Linked DNA regions of Homo sapiens: region 2 is linked to region 1. The links come from fine-mapping of genetic effects on gene expression. Tissue or cell type: unexposed skin. Region 1 holds a variant in brackets; the other region holds the start of a gene. All regions are shown on one strand. Distances are between the middles of the regions.

Region 1 (2,857 bases):
CTATCCCGAGAACAGCATGAGGGTAACCACCCCCATGATTCAATTAGCCCCCACCAGTCCCTCTCACCACCCGTGGGGATTATGGAAACTGCAATTCATGATGAGACACAGCCATACCATATCAGTAGGCTTGCATTTTATTGGTTGTCTTCCCTTGAAAACAATAAGGGATTTTATTAGGCAATGACTTTCTCAAGTGGTCCATTCCTGAGCAAAGGGAACTGCTCTCCAGGAATAACCCACTTGGCCACATGATGGGCATCTGCTCCCCAAAACCTAGGGAGCTCATCAGGACCCAGGGAAGGAGGATTATGGAAAACTCTGAGAGGGGCCCATTTCTTTCTTTTCTTTTCTTTTCTTTTTTTTTTTTGAGACGGAGTCCCACTCTGTTGCCCAGGCTGGAGTGCAGTGGTGCGATCTCGGCTCACTGCAAGCTCCACCTCCCGGGTTCACACCATTCTCTTACCTCAGCCTCCCACGTAGCTGGGACTACAGGTGCCCACCACCTTGCCCAGCTAATTTTTTGTATTTTTAGTAGAGACGGGGTTTCACCGTGTTAGCCAGGATGGTCTCGATCTCCTGACCTCGTGATCCACCCGCCTCGGCCTCCCAAAGTGCTGGGGGCCCATTTCTTTAAATTTGGCCATGATGTATTTCCTTGGCAGAATATGAAAAAAGTCCAAAATTTCAACACACTACATTTGTTTGGTTCTTTAGAATAGGGCTTCTCAAACGTTAATGTGCACACAATCACCTGGTGATCTTGTGGAAATGCAGACTCTATTTCAGTGGGTCTGGGGTGGGGCCTGAGAACGTGCCTTTCCAACAAAGTCCTGGATGCTGTTGATGCTGCTGGCATGAGACACACCCTGAGGAGCAAGACTTTCAAGTTTGGCAAGTGTTTTCCTATGTCATCTCACTCAGTCCTCATGACAAGCCTGTGAGGTACCTGACACATCCCCACTTCCAGCAGTAGAGGCAGGTTCCATGAGGTAAACAGACTTGCTTCGGGTTGCACAGCAGGTACGACTTACTCTCAGACATCTGAATCCGCGTCCTGTGATTTTTCTCCCACACAACTGTGCCTCCTCTGCGTACATCTTGGCCCATAACGCTTCTCAGGAAGATGCTCCAAATCAGGGTTTTTGTTTTCAGAGAGCTTCTTCATCAGCACACCACTGCATTTTTTCCCATTCCCCATATCTTGTTAGATGGGTTCTTTTATGTTGCTTGTCAGTATGTTTAGGTGGTGATTGTCATCCAACATTCTTGCTATCCCTCTCCACTTTATACTATCCACAAGTAGATATAAAATGTCTAGTTTCTCTTATTTGAATTATAAATACAAGCTTTTCTTCGATGTTTGAAGGCTCAAGTATTGATGGATACACAGAGGACTAATCTCTGGGAAGTAATACAGGCAGTATATATAGAGTCAGAGTAAGAGATTAAACATCTTATTGATAATGAGCAGGTAACAAAGTGGGAATCATTATAATAGCATAAGCTGGAAGTTGACAAAAACATACTGGGAAAACACATGGATTCTGGAGTTTTGAATCCTGGTTCTGCCTGA[C/T]CAAATGTGTGATGTGGGGCTAGTTACCCAACCTCTCTGTGCTTTGATTTCCTTGTATGTTAAAAGGAGATAACATGTTTTTTGTGACAATACATTTCATTAATTCACAACAGTCCCCCACATATATTAAGTGTTCAATAAGTATCAGTGCCTATCCTTATTACCAATTGGATAGTCCAATCTCCTTATTTTTATTTTTTGAGAGAGGATCTCACTCTGTCACCCAGGCTAGAGTGCAGTGGTGGGACCTTGGCTCACTGCAGCCTTGACTTCCCAGGCTCCAGCGATTCTCCCATCTCAGCCTCCTTAGTAGCTGGGACCACAGGTGTGTGCTGGCTCATTTTTGTAATTTTGGTAGAGACGGGGCTTCGCTGAGTTGCCCAGACTGGTCTCAAACTCCTGAGCTCCAGTGATCCACCCACCTCGGCCTTCCAAAGTGCTGGGATTGCAGGCATGAGCCACTGCACCTGGCCAATCTCCTTATTTTTAATATGGAGCCAGAGAAGCCCAAAAAGCTTAAGTGATTTCAACATTCATTAACCAACAGTTTTGGAGCTTTCACTATGTAGCAGATATTTACTAGTTGGTGAGTAGGCAAATGTTATAAGTTGGGAAGTAGTGGAGCTGATAAGTGAACACAAACCCTCTAGTTTCTATTCTATTATGGTAAGTGTGAGTGTATGTCTCCACACTCACTGCTGCTCTTGATCTGCAATTGTTCTTTGGTATTTCCAACAGTTCCAAGGGCAGCATTGCCTTTAACTCCATTGACTCTAGTAGCCATCAAACTTTATCTTCTTTTCCCATTTGTCCCAGGAGGATCCTGGGAGTGTGGAACGAAAGATAAAGAACCTTAAGCTGAGCCCTAAGTGCCCTAGACTGGCTAAAGAGGTAGGTCTGGAGGTCAGGAGTGCTCTTAAACCCCAGGGCTTGCTGATGCTCTTCCCAGGTCTGAGTTTCCAACCCCACCCAGAGATTGTTGGTTTGAGAATCAGCATAGTTTACCTGGCTGAACTTCGCGTTATTGGCATTTCTGTCCCCCAGAACAGTAAGGAATTTGGTTACCCTGGGCCATGGCTGGGGCACTGGTTAGCAGCTGCCCCTCCTGCTCATTTTGCGGCTCTATTTCAACAAGACTTGAAAACCTTTGTCTTCAGAGAACTCTCCGGCTCTAAGCTTTTGTGCTTTTGTTTGGAGCAGCCTGTTCTTGTACTTGTAGTTTCAGGTAAGGCATCTGATGTGTAATTAAAGGATAAACACAGAGAGAAATAAAAGTATTTT
Region 2 (2,679 bases), 150 kb before region 1:
AGAGGGGTTGGGTAATGGGTGCAAAAATATATAGAAGGAATATGATCTAGTGTTTGGTAGCACAATAGGGTAAATACAGTTAACAATAATTTATATTTCACAATAAAGGAGTGGATTTGGAATGTTCCCAACATAAATGATAAATGATAAATGTTTGAGGTGATGGATACCCCAATTACCCTGATTTGATCATTACACATTGTATGTTTGTATCAAAATATATGTACCCCATAAATATGTACAACTATTGTGTATCCATAAAAATTAGAAATAAACTATATATATAAAAACTATATGGATATATATATAAACAAACTATATATGGATATATATATATCCATATCCTTCCACACACATATCCATATCCACACACATATCCATATCCACTGCTACCACTCTGTCTCATATATATATGTATATATGTATATATATATGTATATATATGTATGTGTATATATATATATATATGAGAGAGTGTCAATAATTGGTAAGTGTAGATGAAGAGTATATGGATATTTTATGATACTATTTTTTTTCCAAATAGTTGGGAAAAAAGAAAAGGAAGGGGCGAAAGGATAATTTAATTTCCTAATTGTATTTTCTTAGGCTATTGTTAAATGAATTATAGCTAAGCAGTGAAAACAAAACATTTATTCGGGTATGGTTTTATATTTAGGAGTGAATCAAGTTACTAGTGACTCAACTGTAAGAATTATTAAATTGGTAATGCAGTTTTCGTTGCTTGTTAGAGAGACTTCTCATACTTTATGGTTTATGCTTTGGAAGCAAATAAGCTCTAGAGGAAATGGAACAGGTATGTATTAAGGAATTTAAGTTTTTGCTGTAAGTTTGGAAATACTTAACAAATTCTAACTTTTCATTATCACAAGCCTTTTAAAATTACCTGTGATGATAGGTATCTATAAAAGTAATTATATTGATTTATCCCTTTTTTCTAGGTTAAAAAAATAAGTATGTTTTATTGGTGGTAGCTAAGTGGATCTAGTTGATAAAGGTGGAGATATAAATATATTGGTGTAAAAGGACAAATATGAGATAAGACTATGTATTTATTGCCCATTTATGTAATTGCATGTGTCACTAAGGACAAAGGTCCTTAAAGACGAAAAGCAGAGTAGAAACAGTTCCTTATATTAAGACAGATGAATTTGCTACCTCTTCCCTCTTCATGAATTTTTTTTAAATGTATGGTTGTATATCCTTCCAGTTTTATAATCACATTTGAAAACTCAACCATCTTTCTGGGCACAATTTGATGGCTGAAGATATGCTTCACTCCAATAAAAAGAAAATGAAGATTTTTCAAGAGCATTCGTAGGCTTCGAATCAAAAGGACAGTACTTATTTCCTGAGGTCTGATAACCGTTGTTTTATGAGGAAATAGTACTAGGATCACAGTACCATGGATGTGGTAGGCGAAAATGAGGCCCTGCAGCAGTTCTTTGAAGGTAAGAGGCCAATTTCCAGCATGAATTTGCTGCTTCTGAGAAATGCTCACTATCCCTGTTTCACCTTTTCCGTATTCACTTAAACTTTGTTTTGAAAGAAATGCTATCATACTTAGGTAACTCTCCTAATATCAAAAGTAGGGGTTTATTTGCTACATTGGGAGCAAAATTCAATGGTATGGATAGAGATTTTAAACAAAACAGGATTTTCATCTTATAGTTTGGTTGTTAGAATCAAGGGGTCAGCATATTTATGTTGTTATTACTTGTCCCTGTCCTGTACTAGATTTTATTTTTTCCCATGCCCTATGTTTAAAAAAACTACATAGCCATGCTCAAATTCCATGTGAAGGGAAACGTGACCATCATTTTTACACGGTAAGGTATTTTGCATGAGGGAGTATGAGAAGAAGTGAGGGAAGACCTGCTCATTTACAGAATCTAGGGATCAGTCAGCAGCACATCGAGAAAAGTGCTTTAGGTATTTCTTGTGCTTTGTAAAGTGCCTGACAAATAATATATATTTAAAAGTTGAATGGAATGGGCTGAATAGTAAACAATGCTGAACACTAAAGAGTGACGGGGCGTACCAAAGAAATAGTGAGATTCTATGTCACTATTGGGAGGAATCAACACCATGGGGTAGTTTCTGTGGCTTGGGTTTTTCCAGAAATGGCAAGAAGAAACATAAGACCAAGAGAATTATCACATTATCTTGTCCTACCATCCATCCCATTGAGTGTTCTGTCTCTGACAGTGGCCAAGTTGGTATTGTCTACCTGGGTCATGCTTGGCACATGGTAGGCACACTAGTGTTGCTAGACTGTTATTGCCTGATTTTATATCATATATAATTTTCGTTTGAGCAGCAGGTGGCAAGCTTCAATCTACCATTGCATCTATTTTAGAGAAACCAGCAATTTATTGTATACATGCAAAAATCTACTCCATTTCCTTCTAGAGCTAGGGAAGACCTGAATATCGAATTTGGTCTACCTTCTGTTTTTTGAAAGAGCTTTTATTTCTATGGGATCCCTATACTGTCCTTGTTTATACTATTTTTGGAGGTTTCTATGGATATAGTTTCTACAAGTCCCCTCTACAGCTTGTTACAATTATCTGATCATTATTATAAAAGTATTTGTCTTCAGTGTTTTTCTTACATTATCTGTGAATAGTTGGAAAAGGTGGTAGACTTCACAAATTAAAA

What was found. PIP is the estimated chance that this variant, and not a neighbour inherited with it, causes the effect.
Region 2: it holds the start of MYRFL, and the variant in region 1 is fine-mapped to the expression of MYRFL in unexposed skin (GTEx, PIP above 0.99).

What each region holds. Positions count from the first base shown.
Region 1 is chr12:69,971,438-69,974,294 of GRCh38, forward strand. No RefSeq gene overlaps it. Among named protein-coding and RNA genes, the nearest start is that of MYRFL, 150 kb to the left of the region's middle. The variant C/T (reference allele first, on the strand shown) is at 1,577.
Region 2 is chr12:69,824,095-69,826,773 of GRCh38, forward strand. It overlaps MYRFL (myelin regulatory factor like), which reads left to right and starts at 1,133. Exons shown (of 25, transcript NM_182530.3): 1 at 1,133-1,469. The coding sequence starts at 1,424.